Linked DNA regions of Homo sapiens. The protein of the gene in region 4 purifies or fractionates together with the protein of the main gene of each other region. This does not show direct contact. Each region holds a gene or a part of one and is shown on either strand. Other genes may lie near its edges. The genes, in order: REEP1, SHTN1, TOM1L1, CAV3, CEP95, TBC1D2B and TULP3.

Region 1 (3,500 bases), on a different chromosome or scaffold from region 4:
ATTTTAAATGTGTTTGCACACAAATCCATTTCTACTTGGTCTTCGTAATACCCATGATGATGTTCCCTTACTGCTAGATATTTAGATTATCTCTACCTTTTCCTGATATAGATAGTTCTGCAGTGAGCACTACCATTCCTGGAGTTTAGTTGCTTCCTTTAATTGTCTTAGAATTAATTCCCAAGAGCAGGATTATTAAGTCAAACGATTCCAACATTGTATCATTCGTTAACTGTATTACTTACTAAGCTGATTGTGTAGTGGGGTTTCTTAACTAAAATAGGAGCATTATAGGTGGCTTGACAGATTAATGTCTATTGTTTCTGAAAGTTGAATTCCTTGGACTAGAAAGGGGAAGGCTTTGGGAAACATATCCGTTGGATGAGCAGGCTACTGTACAAGTTTCGGAAAATCTCTTTAGGAACTCGGACCGCAGCACTTCCTGTCTCAGAAGGGTGGATTTTGAGGAACGGATCCCTGTCTTGACCTGGTTATCAAATCCCTACTCGTCTTACTTCCCTTTCCCCAAATGCTGGGCTTCCCCTGAAGCTGCCAATGTAACTTCCATTGAAGTGAAGGTGACTGACTCTTAAGAGTTGCCAAGAATCACTTCCAAAGGGGTGGTGGTGGGGGACAGGCAGGTCACAGTTAGAGGGCCTGCTGCTATGACTTCCTGGGGAAGCCTTCCACAGGGAATCCAGCAGGAGGTTGCTGACCCACTTGCACACCTCAAAGCAATGGAAATACACTAATGCACAGAACTTGACTAAGGCCAAATGTCATTGTCTTACCGAACTCTGAAATGAGCAGCTGTCATGAAAAACAGCCTTTTTTTGGGGGGTGGGGGGCGCGGAATCTTGCTCTGTTGCCCAGGCTGGAGTGCAGTGGCACGATCTCGGCTCACTGCAACCTCTGCCTCCTGGGCTCCAGCAATTCTCCTGCCTCAGCCTCCCAGGTAGCTGGGACTATAGGCACGTGCCACCATGCCTGACTCATTTTGTATTTTTAGAGGAGATGGGGTTTTACCATGTTGGCCAGGCTGGTCTCGAACTCTTGACCTCAGGTGATACGCCCACCTTGGCCTCCCAAAGTGCTGGGATTACAGGCGTGAGCCACTGCACCCGGCCGACAAACAGCCATTTTCTTAAAACAATGACAACAACAAAACACTCCCAAACAAACAAAAATAATACACCAAAGTTAATCCAAATTTGAACTAAACCAATATTGTACTTGGCTTTGGTCCCTGAAGAAGACCTCAATCCTGTTTTCCATCTCACCTTTACCTTGTTGCATGACACTGGATGACTTCTAATTTCTGATTTTATTTGAATATGTGTAAAACAATCTCCCTTATCCAGTAATACTCATTTCTTTCAGCTTTGTAATCCCTCCCATCGATATACAAATGGGGTGATATTTGATTTTAGAATTAAATAACTATAGAATAACAGAATTTTAGAACTGCAAGGGCTCAACCCTGTCAAGATAAGGAAGATGACATGGTTATCATTTATTGAAACTAGCCACTGTGTTAGATGTTTTACTGGAATTACCTCATTTAATCCTCACCATGCTCCGCAAGTTGGGTATTATCATTATCCTCGTTTTTCAGAAGACTAAAACTGTGTGTAGAGAGGCTTGCCAAGGTCTGGCAGTCAGTTGGTGGCAGGTCTGAGGCTAGAAGCTCGGTTCTGGGCACTCTCTCCACCCTGGGTGCTTTCAGTGTCTGGTGAGTGGCTGTGTGTAGAATGGCAGGCAAGGCTGTCCATATCCAGAACCTCCTGGAGCCTCCTGGAAGGTCAGAGGGCTTTAGAAACAATCTCAGGGCATCGCTGGATCCGTAAGTTGCAGTGTTTTCAGAGTTCCCTTTTCTACTCTCCTGTATCTCTGCTCTCCCCTCTGCACGCACACCTTCAAAGTGCCTACAGCTTTTCAGGCCCAGCAAGAACAAGGATTGGGCAAGCTGCCAAGCCCAATGCTCAGAGGAAAGGAAAGAAAACAGAGATGTGTTTGAACCTTCCAGCTCAGTGTGCCTCTGTTTTTCCTTTGACAGGAAATCGATGATTGTCTGGTCCAAGCAAAAGACCGAAGTTACGATGCCCTTGTGCACTTCGGGAAGCGGGGCTTGAACGTGGCCGCCACAGCGGCTGTGATGGCTGCTTCCAAGGTACTGTGCTGGAAGTACCACAACTACATGAGTCTCAGTCCCTCTAGTGTGCCCTGCTCATCACCTGTGCGACCACACAGAACAGGCTAAGGACCAATCAGTGGTTTTTCATCTTTTAGGGGTCCTTTTGAAAATCTGATGGAAAAAAATGCTGAATCTTGCCCCAGAAAATTCTCACCCCCCAACACACATGCCCACATACTTGCAATATCAAGAGGTTCCCAGAGCCCCTGAAGCTCATCTGTGCGTCCCAGGTTAAGAATTTCTAACTTATCCAACCCCACTGGAAACAAGAAAATAATAGAATTTCTAACTTACTTGGCACTTAGGCCTGGGAGAAACAGAAGAGGGCAGGGGAGAGAGGGAGAGAGTGCTTCTCTGCAGTTTCCTAGGGTGCACTGGGAGAGTCGCCTAAATGCAGTGGACAGGTGGAGAGACTACCTGAGCAAGCGGGTGGACTCACTCACGATCATGTGGCCCAGCAGATCCAGGGGAAGGAACCCAGGTCCTAGAATAAGTTGAGTGGTCCAGACATGGAGGTCAGTAATGTGCCAAGCCATAACAACTGAAGTGGAGGAGGTTTGAAATAAACACCAGTCTGTGGGATGTTGTGGTGTGAGCATTACTTCTTTCTCTATTCTCTCCAGCCCTTTTCAAAACTGTGTTTCTTCCTAGCATCTTCTCATATCACCCTCTTGTTGTCGTCAATTTGTCATTATTTACGTAGATCTGAAAAGTTAAATTGGTCAGATATTTCCTCTCATGTGAAATCAGCAGATCATCCTAGTGTTCCCCAGGGACAAGCCCTTCCCCAACAACCATGTGTGGAGTAGGGACCTACATTCGGCTGGTGGTGGAGGGAAGGCAGTTATGCTGATGATTGGAAAGACACAGTGGTTGGGAGGTGAGTTGTATTAGCATAAGGAAGTTTGTCCCTTGTGGTGATGTGAGGGTTTTGGGGAAGGAGGCGATGGGGCTTAAAAGGTTTGCAAGAAGATGATTAGTACAGATCTTGGTGCTCTATGAACATTGTGCGGATGGCAGGATGGAGGGTGCTGAGAGCCAGTTTCAAGAGACTGAGCTGGGTTTTCCTTGCCCTGAACCAAAGAGAAGCACATTAGGATCATTTCTGGAAGAGACTCAGCACACTGGGCCGGGTAGTTGCTTGAAAAGTACCTTTCAGGAAGCCAAGGAATTCTGCAGACAAAGCCTGGACAAGAGGGAAGGGGAACCAAAAATGAATGATTCCTCTTTCAGACAAGACCAGCTCCATCTATAACACAGAATTGTAGCTAGGTATCCCGCCACTCCATGTGGCAGATCTCGGGGT
Region 2 (3,500 bases), on a different chromosome or scaffold from region 4:
TGGAGTTCCAGGTGCCACTGGAGTATGAAGAAACACTCCTGCAGCTAGTTTGGTGTCTGCCCAAATGGCCACCCAGTTTTGTGCTTGAATCCCAGGGCCCTGGTGGTGTAGGCACCCAAGGCAATCTCCTGGTCTGTGGGTTGCAAAGATGGTGGGAAAAGCGTAGTATCTGGGCTGGAGAGCACCATTCCTCACAGCACAGTCTCTCGTGGCTTCCCTTGGCTAGGAGAGGGAGTTCTCCAATCCCCTGCACTTCCCGGGTGAGGCAACACCCCACCTTGCTTCAGCTCACCCTTCATGGGCTGCACTCACTGTCCAACCAGTTCCAGTGAGATGAGCCGGGTACCCAATGCAGAAATCACCCGCCTTCTGCGTTGATCCCGCTCGGAGCTGCAGACCGGAGCTGTTCGTATTCGGCCATCTTACCAGCCACCATATATCAACATTTCTTATTGAGGCAAAACAAATCAACTCAACCTCACCACCAAGTTTGTAAAAACTTCAGAACTTCCAAGGATTAAATGTCAATACTGTTGCCACAGAGGCTTTGACAGGTGGTAACAAGTAGCAGCTAACAGCCTTTCCTTCCCAAATGAGGTACATTATAAGTAGTATAAACATTGATGTAATTTTTCTTAAGTGGTCTCTTTAATTTGGAAGTCTTTGTTCCACTTCTTTGCTTCTCCTCTCACCTACCACAATGACTATCCTTTCTTCTTGGCACACAGAGGTAGGCTGTGTCAGCTGGAATAGCTCCACTCATCAAATTGAAATAATCACTTAGGAAGTCTTTAAACATACACATTTGTGCAAGTTTACAAAATCAAAAATTTTCTCTAAGCAAACAATTACTACTAATACGGACTGTCATTTTCTTTGAATAAAACCTATGCCCTCCAACAAGTGCTCTGAGTTGAATACAGCCTCTTAGTGTGTGCAGTCTCCAAAAAATATAACATTTCCAAAAATTGAATTTCCAGACTTTGCCTTATCCAAGCTGTTTTTAAGTTATACCTCTTTCCCTTGCTTCTTCCGACCCTTTGGACAGTTTAAAGATTATTATAAAGTCTATAATAGCGTATTACAAATTTCAGTTTCACAACATTAAGTTCATTTAGTTATTTTTTTCTAAAAGGTGGTTGAAAGCACTTAGTAACTAAGGCAAAATATGAAACAGTAAATGACTGGACTGACTGCACTGGCTCCCTTCATCTTAAATATATGTGTGTATGCATGTATGTGTGTGTGTACCTAAGATTCCAGAAGAAAATGGGTTACCTTTTGTTGATGCTGAATTCTCTCTTCTTCAAGTTGCTGGGTGAGTTTTGCATTTTCGTCTAAAGCTTTCAAAAGCTGCTGATCAGGGATGGAGCTCTGCAGCAGAAGGTGGCTTTGTCTCTTTAGCTTGTTTTGCTCAATGAACATCTGCAAAAGTTTGTTACAAGAATGTATATATCAATCAATCTCACATACCTCCTCAACTGTAACTTCAGCAAAAGAAAAGTACATGGAATTTTTATTAAATCATTAAAGGCAAATTCTGACTTCTATAAGTTTTAGAAGTAGTGATTGCTATGATTTCATTCCTTTTATATAATCTTTAATACCTTTACTCCTGCCCCAACAAGATATTTATACAATAAGCTGGTCTTACTCTTCAGTTTTTAATATTTTATTATTGCTTTAAGATACATTAATATTAATAGTAGTAGCTAATATTTCTCAAGAATTTACCTTGTGTACTCCACTAAATATTTTATATGGATTATTTTAATCCTTACATCAATCCTATTAAAGTGCTTCTACTATGAATAGGTAACATTTACTAAACACTATGTGATAGATATGGTGGGAATCATTTTACATTCATTATATCATATAATCCTTAAAACAACACTATCAAGTAGACACTACTATCATCTAATTTTACTAATAAGGTAACTGAGGCTCAAAGAAGTTAAGCAACTTTCCCAAGAACACACGTAAGTGACAAGACCAGGACTTAAACCCATATCTGATTTACATGCCCAAGCTCTTAACCATCTGGCTAAGTTCCTCTACTATTTGCTAGATCTAATGTTTTGTTTTAAACTAATTAGTTTCTCCCTAGTGATAAAAGTAGTTAACAGTAGAAGGGTAAAGGGGAGAAGGGAGACAGTATATTTTATTGAGCACTGTATTAAGCAATTTATATGTTATTCATCAAATCCTCACAACTTTACATGATTGAAAATAATATTGATTTCTATTTACCTGTTATTTCTTTTCCTTAACACTCTACCCAATTTGGCCAGTGAGTGATTCCAAGTATGAAATGTTTTTGTAAACTCTGAAATCTGGCCTACCAATTTTATAATAGAGCTTCACCTTTTCAGATTTTTAACAGCATTTTAAAATTTACATTATAACTTAACTGAAAGCTCTGAACTGCAAAATGATTTGCTAAAGCCCTCATATTAGTTTGTTCAACAACTTCACCCATCATGTAACAGAAAAAGTCAGCAAATAAAACTCAGGACAAAAATATTTTCCATCAACCTCCATGTGGCAAGACCACAGCTTTAATGATTTATACAATCCTTAAGCTCTTGATCAGTATCGACTTCCACATCAAAGTCAAGTCATGAATACAGTATACTAAAACACTAACATTTTCTTCCCAGTATGTCTTCCTATGAAAGGGAAAAAAAGGTCAGAAGCTTTCCTTCTTTGCCTAGGGATTTATGAAAAGCCTACAAAACTACGACAGGGTTCTTCTGCAGAATTAAAACACATTACAAAGTCAAACAGGTAAATAAACAATTGCATATACATGAAACCCACATTCTTCTTCCATTTGTGTGAGAGTGAGAGGTATAGAGACTGCAGTGAGGAAGAGTATGTGCATGTACACTTGGCTGGAGAAGGGTGAGATGCAGCTTCAGCATTCTAAGAAAGAGTAATCAATATTTCATCACAGTATCTTAAACTTCAGACCAGTGATTTAATTAAAATGAATTGTTTTGGGTGACCATTATGATTACAGTAATTTTTTTTTTTTTTTGAGATGGAGTCTCGCTCTGGCACCCAGGCTGGAGTGCAGTGGCACAATCTCGGCTCACTGCAACCTCTGCCTCTCAGGTTCAAGTGATTCTCGTGCCTCAGCCTCCCAAGTAGCTGGGACTACAGGTGCCTGCCACCATGCCTGGCTAATCTGTGTATTTTTAGTAGAGATGGGGTTTCACTATGTTGGCCAGGTTGGTCTTGAACTCCTGGCCTCAATTGATCCCCCCGCCTCGGCCTCCCAAAGTGCTTGGATTACAGACGTGAGCCACCATGCCTGGTCAAAAAATTTAATTATGTTGAAGAAATTTAAAATTTTAATATAGTTATGAAGACAACTGATAGTTTTCTTGTTGAGGGGGATTAAGTTTTTGGTTTTGTTTTTTAAATGAACTAGCGGGAGTTAAGAATGGGGGGTAACTTTCAATTTTTATTTTATACATTTAGAAAATATTTGT
Region 3 (3,500 bases), on a different chromosome or scaffold from region 4:
AATTGAGACTAACAGAAACAGATTTATTTCCGAGATGAAAATGGCTATTACATAGCATAGGCAAGATTTGATCCCAGTCCTCAGATTCTAAATTCCATGCCCTTGCCTCATGCCACTTTGTTTCTAAGAACGAATCAAGCCTCTTAAAAGAGTAGGCTACTGTGTTTCCTTTATGTCTTTAGTTTCTTCCTGTGTAGTACAGGGCCAGGTATATCAGATGTTGACTGGATTAATGATTAAGCACCCCACCCTCATACACACACCTAATCCCGTCTCTCCTAGTATCCGGGAAGACTCAAGGGCTAATGGAAGGTACTGTAGAACCGGAGTAGAAAGATGTGTAGATGTACCCTCAAATATAGTATATCTGGGATATCTCAAGGGTGCCAAAGGTTAGGAGAATTGAGTAAGGAAGAGAAGGGCAGAAGATGAATTTATGCCCCCTTCTCTATTTCAGCATGGGGTATTATTATTTTGCTTTTTACAGGTGTTCACCATTCATAACAATTTGCCGCTTTCTCCATTGTGCCCAGCCTACTTGATGTTTCAGTGGTTGCTTCTTAATCCCACCTCCATATCTTCTTCCATCATGGTTCCCTCCCTGTGACGACGGACCAGGGACCCTCCTTGAGGAAGTTGGGCTATTCCAGAGTGTTGTGCCTCTGGCCCTCTGTTTCTCTTTGGGCTTCCACTCTTCCTTCTCATCAGGTAGTCTAATCTGCTCGCTGCCTTTCCCATTATCTGTTCCACCTCAGATCTGTAGCTCCCTTACCTCGTGGTTTCTGTCCAATCTAAAGCCTGTGCCTAAAAACAGGCAAGAGTCACAAGTCATAGGTCAGAATACACCTTCATCCTTGGGGTCACAGTACATTAAAGTCAGGAAAAACATCTGGCTTTTCCTTGGATTTTCTTTAAATAGGCCTTTGACTCTTCATATCTTCATGCTGATTTCCCTGAGTTGTGTATTTAATGGTCTAGTCACCTCGTCTCAGACTACTCACTGCCTTGCAGAGGTATGCTTAAGGCCTCAGAACTGACTTTAATATTCACGTAAGCCAAATTTAATTATGAGGGAAATTAGTCACAGGAGTCACCTATGTCTGTCAAAAGCAATTATAAGTTTACCAGTAAACTCTTTAAAATGTAATCCCTATATATGACATTTCCATTTTATTAATGTAAAGTGATGAGAGCCTGTCAAATTCGATTATAAATATTCTTTATGTTATCTGTCATGTTGAGTTCTCCGTGGACGTGTTAGCCTTGATTGGGCTTTGACGGAACCTGACTGTACTATGATTTCCTACCATCAGTCGGTGGAGCAGTTTTGTTTTGTGTTTCAGCAGAATTTTGTTACCAGGCTTTATTACTCTGAGCCAGAGAGTATTCTGTTCTTGAATGAGTCAATTGTGATAAATCTCAGCAAGAGGCTACTATTATTGTCAAATGGAAAGTGGTCGAACAGGTTCCTGAGAATCAATTAGTTAATAGGCCTTTGTGGAGCACCCCCTAAGCAGTGAGCTTCAGGGGTTTCATAAAATGTGTAAAATGTGGTTGAAAATAATAATGAAGAAAAAGCTTGGTTTATTCTCCTTTGGCAAATTTACCAGTGAAACAAAATATCAGGCTGGGTGCAGTGGCTCATGCCTGTAATCCCAGCACTTTGGGAGGCCGAGGAGGGTAGATCACTTCAGGTCAGGAGTTAGAGACCAGCCTGGGCAACATGGTAATACCCTGTCTCTACTGAAAATACAAAAACTAGCCAGTCATGGTGGCATGTGACTGTAATCCCAGCTACTCGGGAGGCTGAGGCAGGAAAATTGCTTGAACCCAGGAGGCGGAGGTTGCAGTGAGCCTAGATTGTGCCAGTGCACTCCAGCCTGGGTGACAAAGCGAGACTCTGTATCCAAGCAAAACAAAGCAAAACAAAACCATGTGGTTGTCCCCCCAGGAGCTTGTTGCAGTTGGAGGGAGTGAGAAGACTGAGGCCTGTCCTAGGGGTGTCATCATAGAGTGGGGTAGTCACCTTGGTGTAGGCACTATTCACGGCCCAGGTGTAGCTCTGATGGCCCTGAAACCTGGTTGTTGTCACTCTGCCTGGTTTGGAAATTTACAGTGAGAAAACTGTCAACTACCTCTTTTTCTTCCAGCCCTCTCTTAAAATACTTAGATCAGCTAATCATCACATTCACTCCTGCTAGGAAGTTCTCCATGGAAGATGATCTAAATAGTTGCCATGTATTGAGGTCCTGCTTTGTGGCAGGCTCTTTGTTATGTTTCATTTGGGCCTTACAACAAGTCTCTAGAGGGAGATATTATGTCCATTTTGCAGATAAGGACACTGAAGCTTAGGATAAGTGATTTGCCCAGCCAAGCCCAAAAGATCAGTGAAGCCTGGAGTCACCCACTTCAGTCTTTGTTCCTTGGCTCCTGAGTTTTCAATCCCACCTCAGATTATGGATTCTTATTTGTCTTATTTCGAAAGATGGGTTATCTGAACACATTTGCATCAAAGTTCAATTTCAGAATATGTGAAAACATATTTAATTTTTCCAATTTGCCACGTAGGTTTTATTACTTATCTGAGTGAGTTGGAGGGTGAAAGAGGTTCTGGTGACATAATAGAGGAGGTGATGTAGAATTAATTAGTCCTGACATTCTTGATTCTAATGGGAAAACACAAAAGGCATGACTGCTAATCTCCAGATGTTCACATTTTTAGCATTTCATGTTGACTCTTTGATTTTGTGCATGTACCTCCTGGGAGTCTTACCCATTATCATAAAATCTTGTGGCACCAAAGATAAAAATTAGTTTGTGAGGGCCAGGTGCAGTGGTTCATGCCTGTAATCCCAGCACTTTGGGAGGCCGGGGTGGATGGATCACTTGAGGCTAGGAGTTTGAGACCAGCCTGGCCAGTATGGCGAAAACCCATGTCTACTAAAAATACAAAAATTAGCTGGGCATGGTGGTGCACGCCTGTAATCTCAGCTACTTGGGAAGCCGAGGCATGAGAATCACCTGAACCGGAGAGGCAGAGGTTGCAGTGAGTCGAGATTGCGCCACTGCACTCCAGCCTAGGTGACAGAGTGAGACCCTGTCTCAAACAAACAAACAAACAAAAATTGGTTTGCGAATTATTTAGCAAGAAATACACCTAGGGAGAGTGAGACTTGGAGGCTAGGTATTTGCGTAAGACGGTACAACTAGTTAGGTGAAATATTTCTGTAAACTCACATTGAGCTAGAAGCACTTTTCCTTTTAGGATTTCGCCCGTTAAAAATTCATTATAATAATCCATCAAGCTAAATGGCATGTTATTCAACTTTCCAACTTTGTCTCACCAAACTGTACAGATTCATCTTAATATGTTTTGGATTTTGTTTTTATTTTTCTTTGCCTTAAAGGTTTTCCCTGTGTTTCACACAGCTGCATGTTTCTATATTTTCTGATTATTTCTTGGTCACAGTGCCTTAAAACTATAGCGTTTTAAGTATAAC
Region 4 (4,201 bases):
CAAAATCCACATTCTTTAGTATGACATTTGGGATGCTGCACACCCAGGCCTGAGCTGAGCTGTATCTCCTGCCTCAACCCCAGACACCCTGTGCTCCAGCCACTCCACACTTTTCAACATTCCTGTCTATACCACTCCTCAATATCCACAATCCTGTAACTTGAAGTGTTCTAGGTGCTGAGCTCCTGCTTGTCATTCGATACCTATCTGCAAAGCCACCTCCCACAGGAAGTCTTCCCCGGTGTCCTCAGAGTAAGTTACTGACTCCTATGGACTTCTAAGACCAGCTCTTTGTAAAATATCTCTGATCTGTGGCACTTACCGCACAGTATTATAATCACTTATTGTTTTAATTAGTCTCCCCACCTTGACTGGGAGCACTTCAAGGCGGACAGAGCCTTGTTGGTCTGTTTATCCCCAGCTATTAGCAAATCCTGAATGAAGGAGTGAATAGACAGGTAAATGGAAGCACAGACCCTGACCCCTGAGGATTCAGAGTTGCCATCCTTCATGCTGCTGGAGCCCAGGGGAAGGCTGAGTTAGAAGAGGGCACAGAAAAACCGAGCAGGTATCTAAGAGAGGTGCACCCCACTGATGCATGTGGAGTGTCTGGGACCCAAGAAAATCCTGGAAGCTGTCACTAGGGCAGGGTGAAGGGTAGCACGAACATGGACTTCATGTTCCCCCCACCGGGCATATCCCAGTGCAGGCTCCAGACGGCAGACGAGGGGCAGCCCCACAGCAGCTTCCTCTCCCTGTTTCATCCCCAGCCTGGCCCCACACCACAGTCCATCAACTCCTGCTCCAGGTGGAAACCTCAGAAACCCACAAAGCTCGGACCTGCTCCAGGTCACCAAGCAGCAGGGCCAGGCACTGGCAATCCAACGAGAAGCCCCACTACATCGCATTCCAGCTCCTGAAGCCATTCCCTGGGTAGGAGAGCCCTGATTGTTATTATCATCTCTCCATTTTACAGATGGGGACAGAGTGGCCTAGAGAGGTGAAGTGTGCCAAAGGTCACACAGCCAGCCAGAGGCAGAGGAGGGACTAACCCCACTTCCCTCCACGGGCAGTGCACCCCAAAGGAGCCAAAATGCTGACAGCAGTGGGGCAAATTCCAGGGGCCCCGGAGCGACCGCCGAGTTGGCCACAGCCACACGATGCATAGGAAACGCTAGGCCCTCTGCACCCTCTCCTGAGGCCCAGTGCCCTGAGGCAGCCCCCTTTAAGGAGCGATCGGCCTTCCAGAAGAGCTCCAGTCTTAATTTTAGCTTGGAGGCCTGCCACAGGAGGCTTTAGAGAGAGGCAGGCTGAAGTTATGTGGGACAGCTGTCAGCCGGCATGCTGGGTGGGGCCTATTTAGCTGGCAGGGACATAAGTCTGGGGACACTGAATTGGTCTCTCTGCCCCAAGTATTTTCAGCCCCAGCCGGCCACACAGCTCGGATCTCCTCCTGTGGATCCCCCCAGCTCTGCGATGATGGCAGAAGAGCACACAGATCTCGAGGCCCAGATCGTCAAGGATATCCACTGCAAGGAGATTGACCTGGTGAACCGAGACCCCAAGAACATTAACGAGGACATAGTCAAGGTAGGCTCTGCAGGCCTGCCTCGGCGGGCGGAGAGTGTCAGGTTTGCGAGACGTGGGCGCTTGGCAGGGGAGGGTATCTGCTGCAGACACAGTTTCCCTGAAAAGAGACTTGTTGCTCTGTTGTCTCTGTATCACCCCCCCAACCCCACCCCACCCCCAAAAAAAGGCTTCTAAATCACCGAAGGATCTTTAGCAAAATCAAGAGCAAAAAATTAGCCTCATCTCCATGACCTAAGTGCTAATCAGGGCAGGAGGAGCGAGTCACAAAGAAAATCCCTCCTTACTACTGTGACGCTCCTGCCACTCACTCCTGGCTCTCACCCTGGGAGGAACAGGAACGGGCGGCCAAGTTGGGCTCCTTTCTGTGCCAAGGGGCATTTCTGCGGTCTCTCCAGTGGGTGCAGGGTTAATCCCCAGAGGGCAGCTTCCAGCAGGGCCGGCAGCCCCTCGAGGTACACTCACTCCCCCAGAGCACTGCCCAATATCTGTCCCCAAGGCCGAGGGCCATGCCCAGCCCTCCCCTAGCTACCCCCTCACCCCAGGTCTAGTGGCCAGGACAGGGCAGACGGCACCCGGGACCCTCGAAGAGAAAGCTCGGGGTTGTCTAGCCCTCAGGGAGTCTCTCAGCGTCTGAAGTTGGGCCTCTTCCCTCGCCTCCTGGTGACACTAGCGGCCCTGCTGCCTCCAGGCCCACACCTTCAATCCAACTTCCAGCCAGTACCCAGAGGGATCTTTCTTTTTTCTTTTTGAGACAGTCTCTCTCTGTCCCCAAGGCTGGAGTGCAGTCGCACACTCACGCCTCACTGCAGCCTCAACCTCCCAGGCTCAAGTGATTCTCCCTCCTCCACCTCCTGATTAGCTGGGACCACAGGCGAGTGCCACCATGCCCAGCTAATTTTTGTATTTTTAGTAGAGACTGGGTTTCATTATGTTGACCAAGCTGGTATCAAACTCTTGGGCTCAAGTGATCCTCCTGCCTCCCAAAGTGCTGGGATTACAGGTGCAAGACTCCACAACTGGCTCAGAGGTACCTTTCTAAAGCAGAATTCCTCCAAGAAGGGTCCCCAGCCACCAGCATCTGAGTCACTGGAGGGGCTGTTAAGAGGCCAGTGTCTGAGGCCTCTCAGATCCTACTGAAAGCATTGGAATCTCAGGCCAGTGCTGTCCAATAGGGATACTGTTACCACAAGGAATTTAAAATTTTCTAGCAGCCACATTTTAAAATGCGAAAGCAAACAGGTGAAATTAATGTTCCTGATATTTCTTACTTAACCCTATATATCTAAAATAGTATTATTTCAACATGTAAGCAATATAAAACAATTATCAATGAGCTATTGTACAGTCTTCAAGTTTGAAATCCAGTGTGCTTCCTATACCCACAGTATATTTCAGTTCAGACCCCACATTTTCATCCGAAATGCTTGTTCTGCATTTAGATTTCATAAAATGTACATGTGAAAATCGATTCGCATGCCTGTACTGTTTCAAACATTCTGCAAAAATTTTTCAATAATGAAATCGGGGTTTACATTTTAATTAAAGTTAAACAAAATCTAGAATTCTTCAGTTTCACTAGCCACATTTCAAGCGCTCAAAGCTCCTGGCCACTGGATCAGACAGGCCTGTATTGCGGTCTTTCAGTGGGGCACCTCCCATGCTGGAGAAGCCTAGCCTCTCCACGTGGCTGTCCAAACCCAACACAATCTGGCCCCAACCTGCTTCTTCTGCCTGGTTGGCTCCCACCTGCCAGCCCACCCACCAGAGTACATTCCTGTGCCATTGCCAGAAGTGCCTGTCCTCTCTTCTCCAGGTGGTGAATGCCTCACTCAGCCTTCAAGGCCCAACTCAAATGCAACCTCCTCCAGAAAGCCTTCCCTGACTCCTCCAGGCAATTAGTTGCTCCCACTTCTGTCCCCCTGCTTCACTCAGGGCATTCCTCCACCACAGCTCTTCTTATACTGGATATTATATTTCTATACATCGTTAGTGATGGAGATAGAGTATACAGTATAGCACAGTGTGAAAGCTGAAATGAGGAAAATTAGGAAACAAATTTCACAAACTGTAAAGCACTATATACATGTAAATAAAATTGTACCTGTAAAATATTATTAGTTATGGTTTCCATCAGTGTCATCTAGCAGGAATAGTCCTGGACTTGACTTTAATAGACTTGATTTCAAATCCAGTCCATTTTACCTAAAAATGATAACACTGGACAAACCAACTAGGTTTTCTGAGACTCAGTTTCCCCTGTAAAGTGGGAATAATATCATTTCCCAATTTACCTCCACCAGGTAAACGAATCTCAAAGCAGCACTGTGCGTTAGAAATATAGCATGAGGATTGAATGAGATGAAGGGTTTGAAAGTGTCTATCACAGTCCCTGGCACCCAGCAAGGATGAGACAGTGTGAGTCAAAGAAGGGTCTCAAAGAGCTTGCAGTCTAGAGGGCAAGAGAGCTAAGCCAGGAGCCTGCGTCATGCCCAGGTAGCCATCTGGTACACCCAGGTGGGCTGCAGGGAGATGGGAAAGAGGATCCCACGGGAGAACATGGTTTCTAAAGGGCACCCACAATGGCTGGTAAGTACAGAGGGAGCCCTTGGAT
Region 5 (3,500 bases), on a different chromosome or scaffold from region 4:
AATATTGGACCTCTAAGAATACATGAGAAGGAGGAGGAAACAGTGGGTAAAAGTCTCCACTGTAATAAATGCCATTTGATCAGATGAGTGGGAAGTACAAAGATGATCTTTTTAAAAGAAGAAGGGGCCAACAGGGCCTTAATCATGAGCTCTTTAGGAAAAGGCAGGATTTCATGTCATGATACAGGACTTGCTTATTAATAAGGCATTCAGGTTGCTAAAATATGACGAGACATGGTTCCAAAGAAAAGTAGTGTTTTTCCGCTACTTAAAACTTCCCATCAGTTTTTAAGGGTTTATTTGACTTAGCAGTTCACCAGGGGCTTAAAAACTACTCTAGGCTGACAAAATTAAAGAAGAGTAAGAGAAGACAGAACATCCTAGTTGGCTATAGACCTGGTTGTAAGAAACCCAAAACAGAAGTTTTCATTGCCTTTCAAAAGAATGGTTACAGAAACTAAGTGAAATCATGGGGAAAATGCTTATGCTAAAATATTCATGAACAAAACAGGATATAAAGTACAGTATGGTTACAACTAAGCATACTGCATAGTTGCCTGAGAATTTTTTAAATCTACATGGAAAAAGAGAAGTACATTGAAACATTAATGGTTAAAAAAAAGATTAATAGTGGTTGTATTTAGGGTGTGGGACTATGGTGACTGAAACTTGAAAAAGATTCAGTGCTTTTTCAAATTCCAAGGGATGCCAGAGGCCAAAAGGTGCATTTAACTTAGAGTAAATGAATATTAACCAGATTTTACAAATTTGAAGTAAGGTGGTTTGGCTTACTGTTAGCTAAAAAACTAAAAAACTACCGTTAGCTGTTTTTGTCAGTATGTAATATTTAAGATGATGTATGAAAGAACTGTTAGACCTTTTATTTTTATTCTGTTTTATATCTGCTTCTAAGGAAAAAATATACAGAGGAGAAGCTGTTCGTAAAGGAACTCCAGAATGTAGTCAGCCCTGGAAGATTTACTCTAGAAAAACCACAACGCAGAGTCTAAGAGGTGGCCTCCCAAAGCCAAATAAAGCAGTTCCAAGTAAGAACCACAGAATTGTACTTTATGGAAAACTGGCAACCTTTGAAAGCATGTGCAACATTCCAAGGACACAGCACTGAAAGCTAACATCCACCAGTTAGCCGAAGAAAGTTTTTTTTTTTTCCCAATCACTGCCATGTGGCTGGTTTTCCGTAGAGGGCTAAAACTCTTCAATAAGGAAGTACTTCAGGGAGGCCTATATATTGGCACCCAAGGAATGCCAGGACTGCCACCTGCTGCTCCAGCGTTAGCCTCACTCGTGTGCTTACTCACTTTGACTGCCTTTTTGTCTATTTCTGGGAGGTTGGTAGAATGAAAGGGATGCTCCAAGGCAAGCAGATGGCCTGTCCACCTCCTATATATTGACAGTGCCAATGAGTGTAGAGTCTTGTTACAAGAAACAAAGTCATGAGAAATGCCAGGCTTCCTGTTACACCCAAAGACTGCTGGCCCTCCTACTCTATCCTTTAGACCAGAAACTTTTTCTTCTAAGCACTTGCCTACCGGGAAGGTTGAGGAGTCTTGTTTTACCGTACGTAGAGAATCTACCCACAGGCACTGAAGCGGCTGAGCAATTAGGATGGACTTCCCAGGACCAGCATGGCATCAATCCAGAACTATTGAGCTTATTTTTATCCTTACCAGTAGTTGGCTTACTCCAATCAGAGGAGTAATGCAAATTATTATAAGTACATTTAGAATTGTTCTTTTCAGGATCAAAACCACATCACTTACATAAGCTTTGATCTACCAGGGATGTTGGATGACAGTTCTTGTCCACGTCTCAGATTAAGAACATCTTATTTTACCTTGCAGTGAAAGTAAGTGAACACAGTCTCCTGCCCCTTATGCTGGAGCAGTTTCCGTTTCTTTATGTTTCTGGCCCAACACTAAGCAAAATGTGGAAACAGCAAATTGCACAGGTTGAACAGCTTAAGAAAGAAGCATGTAGAGAAAATCGATCAAAGAAGAAACTCCAAGATGAAGTAAGTTACTGTCAGTCTTAAGCATAGGAATTTAAATGAGAAGAGCTTATCCTTAAGAATTTAGTGAACAGCATTATTAACCTACTTAACTTCATGTCCCCCTTCAAGATAGAAGAAGCCCTAAGAAGGCATGACCTCCTTACTACCCTTGTCAAGAAAGAATATGAACATAACAAGAGACTGGTATGTCAAGAGCAAGTTGGGTATTATAATTCTGAATTTGTTATATTCATTCCCTTTATCTGTGCTAGCTGGGCAACAGTTGCACAGACCCTTAACCTCTTAACACCTGCATGTGGAAGTGTTGCCTAGGTCTTTAACCAAAATTGATAGCCCATGCCTGTAATCCCAGCACTTTGGGAGGCTGAGGTGAGAGGATCACTTGAGACCAGCCTCAGCAACATAGTGGGACCCTGTCATTAAAAATATATATATGGGTGTGGAAAAAATGAGCCTGGCATGGTGGCATTTGCCTGTGGTCCCAGCTACTTGGGAGGCTGAAGTGGGAGGATCACTTGAACGTGGGAGGGCGAGGCTGCAGTGAGCTATGATCTTGCCACTGCACTCCAGCCTGGGTGCCAGAGTGAGACCCTGTCTCAACAACAACAAAACACACAAACCCAAAATGGGCAGGAGGAAGAGCTAGGTACTTTATATACACAGTTTCAGTTAGTCTTCATAGTAATGTATTAGAGATGTTTTCTATGAAATGAAAACCCTGAAGCTTTGAGATACTAAGTAACTTGCCCTGGGTCTCACTGATAAGCAAGGGACACAGCTGAGATTTTAATCCAGTTCTGTCTGTGGACTCCATGGACCCATCTAGGTGCCAAGCAGCTGAACTTAGTGCTGTTTGCCCTCTCCCATCCTTCTCAGGTCCCAAGTAGAGAGCTCCAGGATTTATCAGCCTCCGTTATAATTTTGACTAGGAATTGTGCTTAGAGAATTACGAAGGGAGAGGATGGAGGTCAGAAACAATCTGCCAAAGGGAGAGATTTAAAAATCTTTGCCTGAGTGTGGAGTAGAGATAAGCCATGAGAACTGTAATACTGAACAGTTCCAGGAAGACATCTCAGGAACTGCAGATGGTACTTTCCTGTGGAGGGAAAAAACACTAGTATCTGAAACACCTACATAAGAGGCTTTATGTACATGACCCCATTTTATTTTCACTCCTTTGTCAGATACTGTCTAATTTCCTTAGTTTTTGCCTAAATGCTCCTGGCAGCTCAGGCTCTGCTTGAAAGTCTGGGTGTGCCATTTTCCTACTCCTTGTGAGGTGGCATCTGGGCCAGCCTTGTTAGCAGCTTCCTGGTGGCATGGGGAGTGAGCCCTCAGTTCCACAGGAGTGCCCAGGATCACTGCTGCCCTCTGCTGCAGTGGGGTGTTATTGGAGCTGCTCTTCAGATTGAGGTGATAAAGCTGCCAAAGGCTGAAGGGCTTCTGGGGCCACTGGCCCCCCACACGT
Region 6 (3,500 bases), on a different chromosome or scaffold from region 4:
AGGATCACTTGATACCAATAGTTCGAGACCAGCCTAGGCAACAAAGTGAGACCCTATCCCTACAAAAATTAAAAAAAACTAGCCAGGTGTGGCTGGATGTGGTGGCTCACGCCTGTAATCCCAGCACTTTGGGAAGCCGAGGTGGGTGGATCACTTGAGGTCAGGAGTTTGAGACCAGCCTGACCAGCATGGTGAGACCCTGTCTCTACTAAAAATACAAAATTAGCTGGGTGTGGTGGCGGATGCCTGTAATCCCAGCTGCTTGGGAGGCTGAGGCAGGAGAATTGCTTGAACCCAGGAAACAGAGGTTGCAGCAAGCTGAGGTGGCGCCATTGCACTCCAGCCTGGGCGACAAGAGCGAAACTCTGTCTCAAAACAAAAAACAAACTAGCCAGGCATGATGGCACATGTCTTTAGTCCCAGCTACTTGGGAGGCTGAGGCAGGAGGACTGCTTGATCCCAGGAGGTGGACATTGCAGTGAGCTGTGTTTGCTCCACTGTACTCCAGCCTGGGTGACAGAGGGAGACCCTGTTTCAAAAAAATAAAATAGCAAAATAAAAATGTTAAAACTGCCCTTGCCTTGTAGATTGTACAGAAATAGGCAGAGACTGGAAATGACCGCAGGCTGTAGTTCACTGACTTGTGTTCTAGGAAGGCCTCAGGAGCTTCCCACTCATTCACTCACTGTGTGTGCTTAGGCACTGGGGATATGACTGGACAAGACAAACAGTCCCTGTCCTCCTGGAGCTTTCAGTAGGTGGGGGGGACAGACGTTAATAAAATATAACAAACACCAACCAGTGCTAGGAAGTTTGAAAGGAAAGATATGCAATGCATGTATAGTTCAGGATCTTGATCTGGTTTATGGTTGGTGGAGGGCTAGGAAAGACTTTCCTGAAGAAGCGACATTTGAGCTGAGACTCAAAGGATGAGTTGGTGTTGACTGGAGCGGGGGTGGGGGTGGAGAGGAGGAAGTCAAGTGTTGTAGGGAGAGGAAATGGCATAAGCAGAGGCCCTTAGGTGGGGGTGCTGGTTGCATGTGGGACTCAAGGAGTGCCTGGTGGCAACTAGGAGTGAAGGGGACATAGCCTTTGGAAGAGGCAGGCCTTGGGCCAGGGCAGGATTTTGGTCTTCATCTTAAGAGCTAGAGTCAGTAAAGAGTTTTAAGCAGGGTTTGACAAATAGGTTTTTGTTTTCTTTCTTCTGCTCCCAGATAGATTGTTTTAGGCCATTTGTGCTGCTGTGAAAAAATACCGTAGACAGGGTAGCTTATAAACAACAGAAATTTATTTCTCATAGTTCTGGAGGCTGGGAAGCCCAAGATGAAGGCACCAGCAGATTTGGTGTCTGGTGAGGGCTCACTCTGCTTTAGAGGTGGTGCCTTCTAGTGGTGTCCTCATAGCAGAAGGGGACAGACAAGTTCCTTCTGGGGCCTCCATCTATGTATGTTTGTATATATGTATGTATGTATCTATCTATCTAAATGTATTTTTCTCCTCAAATTCCTTTTACCACTCTGGCCTCTTTCATAAGGACCCTGATCTCATTCCAGAGGGCTCTGCCCTCATGACTTAAATCACTTCCCACAAGGCTTCCCTCTTAGTACTATCATCTTGGGGACTGGGTCTCAACACGTGAATTTTGCGGGGACACACGTTTGGACTGTGGCACTGATGGTTTGGTCATGCCTAGTATTTTTATGTAACTAAGTTAGAGGATTATCGTGTTGGGTACAAAGGGTTGATGTATTTATATGTTATGTACTGGCAAACAGATTTAAAAGTAGATAAATGCAAAGCTGAACCTATCTTGAGCAGTTGCTTCTTAATTTTGTTTCTGAGTGGTGGGTGTTGTGATGGGTGAAGCTCGCTTTGGCAGGTGTGTGTGTGGCTAGGGCCGGCCCGCCCTGGTGGACTTCCTTTCCTGAAGCATTCCTAATGGCCCCCGGCATTGACTTCTCTCCTGCTGCACTTGCTTTGCTCATATGCACATTACCAGTTTCCTTCCTCTGTGGAGATGACGATTTCTTGAGAAATGGAAGGAGTATTCAGATGTACCAGCTCCCACCTCACGTCTGAGGGGGGTGGACCAGTCTCCTCGATCAGTTGCTTTTACCTTTGAGCCACTGGGGTGCAGACTTCCCACCTCCAGTCAGAACAAAATACAAACAGTAACACCCCCTTCCTCTAAAGAAAGAAAAAGACCCCCACCATTGTAGAAGTGACTGTCAGTTTGGGAGAGGGAGAGGCATTTTCATTAGCAATTTTCGGTTCTGGTATTTATGTAGTGGGATCTTAATGACATGTGATCGGGTGTTCACCCATATCCTGTCAGGCCAGCCCTCAGCTGGGTTTTGTTTGCTTTCACAGAGTGAATGCAATGTGGAAATGGTAAACTGGGTAGTGGTGACTAGTTAGTGGCTTGTAACTAGTGTTCTGTGAAGTACTTTGCCTGGAGTGCTCAGTTCAGTAAACATCTTGGCATTCAGATATGTGAGGCCATGTGAGGGGCAAGAAGCTGAGAGGATCCCTGGGGAGACTGTGGCTTTCGTGATTGTCCAGCAGGCAGTAGCTCACCAGCCAGCACAGGAGGCCCTCAGTCGGCTACAGATTCAGGATGGTTTTGCTCCTGGTCTAGTCTTTGAGTGTCTGCTGTTGTGTCCTACCAGAGCATCACCTCCTAGGATATTTTGTCAGTGTATTTCACTACTGTGCCTTTCATACTTAGAGGATCCCAGCACCTGTTAGATGCTTGTTGGCTAAATGCATGCTTTAAGCCCTCATATCCTCTGTGTGTGTGTGTGTGTGTGTGTGTGTGTGTGTGTGTGGGTGTGGTGTGTGTGCTTTCATTTCATGGTGAAACGGACGTTTGTAGTGTCCATTTACTCAGCAAATATTTTTGAGCATCTATCATATTCTAAGCACTATGCTGCTTGCTGCAAATACAGCAGTGAAAATTTTCCATTGATTTAAGAAACTGTAGTGTTAACTTTAAAAATAGCTTAGCATCTGATATAATCAAAGAATTGTAAGAGTTTTGAAAAAAACATTGAAGAGGCCCATGTTTGTCTGTAGTATTCAGCACTGAGATAAATATCACATGTCTGCAAGTTTTTTGATTCTGAGAAGTCTGGCACTTCTCCATAGTAAAGGAAGGGGAGGGGGCATCCATATGTAAAATACTAATCTGGATATGGCCCAGGGCCAGAAATCTGTGATTTGTGTAATAATTTTGGTGAACACTGCAGAATTGGAGAGTTCTGTATAACTGATTATCAAGAAAGCTCCCTGAAGAAGATGGGACAAGGGAGTTAGTAAATGTTGGTATAATTGTGTAGCTGCTCAAAGACTTAGTTCCTGTTTGATCAGCAACATGTGTTCCCTGTAAGCTGGGAATCACCATCTTCTAATGAGTTTGCATGCTTGGCCATTTTCTTAGCCTTTGCAGAGATTGCCTGGGAGAACTAGAATCCAGTGTGAGAAGTGGGGATTTGGTAGCT
Region 7 (2,874 bases), on a different chromosome or scaffold from region 4:
GTCACCCAGGCTGGAGAGCAGTGATGCAATCTCAGCTCACTGCAGCCTCGACCTCCTGGCTCAAGTGATGCTCCCACCTCAGCCTCCCGGGTAGCTGGGACTACAAGTGCCTGCCACCACGCCCAGCTAATTTTTCTATTTTTTGTAGAGATGGGGTTTCACACCATGTTGCCCAGGCTGGTCTCAAGCGATCTGCCCACCTCGGCCTCCCAAAGTGCTGGGATTACAGACGTGAGCCATGGTGCCCAGCCAACTTCTCTGATTTGCTATAGCATCTCTCTCACACTCCTCTCCCCTCCTCAACACAGTGATTTACAAGTTTTCTCTAAAACTGTAGTTTCATCTTTCCAAAGAAATCCTGTCTCTCCTCCATGATTATCTGCTGACTGTCACTTCCTATCATGTACAGGGAATGTGCATTCCCATCCTGTAAGAGCATCTGTCCTCCTCTTCCCACCCAACCCCTCCTGGAGGCTTACGGTCATTTTTGTGGACTATCTGGAAGTTCTTCACAGACGCCTGAGTGACCCGGCCACGGAAGTTGAGGACATAGGACTGAGTGTCACTGTTCCAGACGGGGGCCTTGTTGTGCAGCTCAACCAGATTTTCCATAGTTCTGTTCTGCCACCTTGAGAGCAAACTGTCATGGTTCTGTCCAAAGGGAAAATCATTACTTTGTACTGAGAACTCCAACTCTACGAGGTAGAAGGTAGAGTAGGAGAATACTTTCTCCATTTCAGAAAGGGTAAACCAGAAGCGAAGAATGAAAGCCAACAATGAAGACAGGTTTTTTTTAAAATTATTCTACATCATCCAGCATTTCTCTTTGTAGAAAAAATGGTTTCAAGGCAATGACTCTGCAACTGCTCTTATCCTGAGGTTTTGGAGGGGCAGCTTTCCTAAAGAAGTGTATGGAGCTATCTCCAGTGTGGGGCTCTGGAAGCTCAATCTTTTTTTTTTTTTTTGTATTAATCTCTGTGTATTGTACTACTGTCTTTTAGAGTCTTTCACTGATTTAAATACATTCTTACTCACGTTTTGTGGCTGATAGGGGATCTGCTTATGATTCAGTGTCATTCCAGGAATGATCACAGACATTTTCCTAGGACCTTTAAATCCAAGTACGTTTGTTTCCTGGAAGATAGGAAAACAAAGCAGAACTTGGAAACAGGAAAAAAATAGAGACCACATTCTTTTATAACATGAGACTTTCTTGGGAATGTAAGATGCTGACAATATCAGCTGTATCAGCCGGGGCAGTGGATCACGCCTATAATCCCAGCACTTTGGGAGGCCGAGGTGGGCAGATAACCTGAGGTCAGGAGTTTGAGACCAGCCTGGCCAACATGGTGAAACCCTGTCTCTACTAAAAATACAAAAATTAGCCAGGCGTGGTGGCAGGCGCCTGTAATCCCAGCTACTCGGGAGGCTGAGGCAGGAGAATTGCTTGAACCCAGGAGGCAGAGGCTGCAGTGAGCCGAGATCACGCCGTTGCACTCCAGCCTGGGCGACAAGAGTGAGACTCTGCCTCAGAAAAAAAAAAAAAAAAAAAAAAAAAAAAAAATCAGGTGTACCAAAAATAATTTTATTACTTTGCTGTAAACAGAATCAAAAACAGGAAAGTAATATTATATCTCTTTATACTTCTCTTTTTTTTTTTGAGACAGAGTCACGCTCTGTCGCCAGGCTGGAGTGCAGTGGCACAATCTCAGCTCACTGCAACCTCCAATCTCCACCTCCTGGGTTCAAGCGATTCCTGTGCCTCAGCCTGGGACTACAGGCGCATGCCACCACGCCTGGCTAATTATTTTTTGTATTTTTAGTAGAGACGGGGTTTCACCAAGTTGGCTAGGATGGTCTCGATCTCCTGACCTCGTGATCTGCCTGCCTCAGCCTCCCAAAGTGCTGGGATTACAGGCGTGAGCCACTGCACCTGGCCTATACCTTCTTTAAACACCTACATTTAAAACAGAATCTCTTGGCTTGAGAGTTTACTCTTAACTATTTTTTTTTTGGGACCAGAGTTTCACTCTTGTTGCCCAGGCTGGAGTATAATGGCACAATCTCAGCTCACCACAACCTCCGCCTCCCGGGTTCAAGCAATTTTCCTGCCTCAGCCTGAGTAGCTGGGATTATAGGCATGCGCCACCACACCCGGCTAATTTTGTATTTTTTTTTTTTTTTTAGTCGAGACGGGGTTTCTCCATGTTGGTCTCGAATTCCCGACCTCAGGTGATCCGCCCATCTTGGCCTCCCAAGGTGCTGTGACTACAGGAGTGAGCCACCACGCCCGGCCTCTTACTCTTGAGTCTTAAATGTGATTTGAGATAACTGTGAACAAACTGTTCAACTTTGTCAGCACCAACACATATTTATTTCCCAGTGAGGGCATAGCACTATATTACATACAGTGAAAATTAGTTGTGGTTAAATAAGGCCTGCACTAGGTATTAAAAATGCCTGTCAAGCCAAGCAGATTATTCTTATTTTATTTTGAGATGGCGTCTTGCTCTGTCACCCAGGCTGGAGTGCAGTGGCACAATCTTGGCTCATTGCAACCTCTGCCTCCTGGGTTCAAGCGATTCTCCTGCCTCAGCCTCCCGAGTAGCTGGGATTACAGGTGCCTGCCACCACGCCTGGCTAATTTTTTTTGTATTTTTAGTAGAGACGGGTTTTTGCCATGTTGGCCAGGCTGGTCTCCACCTCCTGACTTCAGGTGATCCACCGGCCTCGGCCTCCCAAAGTGCTGGGATTACAGGCGTGAGCCACCACGCCTGGCCGATTATTATTATTTTTTAAACAGGGTCTCATGCTGTCGCCCAGGCTAGAGTGCATGGTGTGATCACGGCTCACTGCAGCCTCGACCCTCCTAAG

Evidence for each region.
Region 1: the proteins of CAV3 (region 4) and REEP1 purify together in Homo sapiens (affinity purification with mass spectrometry; 2 studies listed by BioGRID and IntAct, with this or other methods). This does not show direct contact.
Region 2: the proteins of CAV3 (region 4) and SHTN1 purify together in Homo sapiens (affinity purification with mass spectrometry; 2 studies listed by BioGRID and IntAct, with this or other methods). This does not show direct contact.
Region 3: the proteins of CAV3 (region 4) and TOM1L1 purify together in Homo sapiens (affinity purification with mass spectrometry; 2 studies listed by BioGRID and IntAct, with this or other methods). This does not show direct contact.
Region 5: the proteins of CAV3 (region 4) and CEP95 purify together in Homo sapiens (affinity purification with mass spectrometry; 2 studies listed by BioGRID and IntAct, with this or other methods). This does not show direct contact.
Region 6: the proteins of CAV3 (region 4) and TBC1D2B purify together in Homo sapiens (affinity purification with mass spectrometry; 2 studies listed by BioGRID and IntAct, with this or other methods). This does not show direct contact.
Region 7: the proteins of CAV3 (region 4) and TULP3 purify together in Homo sapiens (affinity purification with mass spectrometry; 2 studies listed by BioGRID and IntAct, with this or other methods). This does not show direct contact.

The regions. Positions count from the first base shown.
Region 1 is NC_000002.12:86,250,627-86,254,126, reverse strand, and holds part of REEP1 (receptor expression-enhancing protein 1), read left to right. Parts: intron 1-2,056; coding exon 2,057-2,170; intron 2,171-3,500.
Region 2 is NC_000010.11:116,939,188-116,942,687, forward strand, and holds part of SHTN1 (shootin-1), read right to left. Parts: intron 1,426-3,500; coding exon 1,279-1,425; intron 1-1,278. UniProt on the Homo sapiens protein: Involved in the generation of internal asymmetric signals required for neuronal polarization and neurite outgrowth.
Region 3 is NC_000017.11:54,907,352-54,910,851, forward strand, and holds part of TOM1L1 (TOM1-like protein 1), read left to right. Parts: intron 1-3,500. UniProt on the Homo sapiens protein: Probable adapter protein involved in signaling pathways. Interacts with the SH2 and SH3 domains of various signaling proteins when it is phosphorylated. May promote FYN activation, possibly by disrupting intramolecular SH3-dependent interactions.
Region 4 is NC_000003.12:8,732,401-8,736,601, forward strand, and holds the start of CAV3 (caveolin-3), read left to right. Parts: upstream 1-1,401; 5' UTR 1,402-1,476; coding exon 1,477-1,590; intron 1,591-4,201. UniProt on the Homo sapiens protein: May act as a scaffolding protein within caveolar membranes. Interacts directly with G-protein alpha subunits and can functionally regulate their activity. May also regulate voltage-gated potassium channels.
Region 5 is NC_000017.11:64,530,977-64,534,476, forward strand, and holds part of CEP95 (centrosomal protein of 95 kDa), read left to right. Parts: coding exon 1-42; coding exon of another isoform or gene 43-46; exon of another isoform or gene 47-913; coding exon 914-1,046; exon of another isoform or gene 1,047-1,862; coding exon 1,863-2,032; intron 2,033-2,140; coding exon 2,141-2,215; intron 2,216-3,500.
Region 6 is NC_000015.10:78,067,712-78,071,211, reverse strand, and holds part of TBC1D2B (TBC1 domain family member 2B), read left to right. Parts: intron 1-3,500. UniProt on the Homo sapiens protein: GTPase-activating protein that plays a role in the early steps of endocytosis.
Region 7 is NC_000012.12:2,935,891-2,938,764, reverse strand, and holds part of TULP3 (tubby-related protein 3), read right to left. Parts: intron 1,135-2,874; coding exon 1,036-1,134; intron 652-1,035; coding exon 480-651; intron 1-479. UniProt on the Homo sapiens protein: Negative regulator of the Shh signaling transduction pathway: recruited to primary cilia via association with the IFT complex A (IFT-A) and is required for recruitment of G protein-coupled receptor GPR161 to cilia, a promoter of PKA-dependent basal repression machinery in Shh signaling.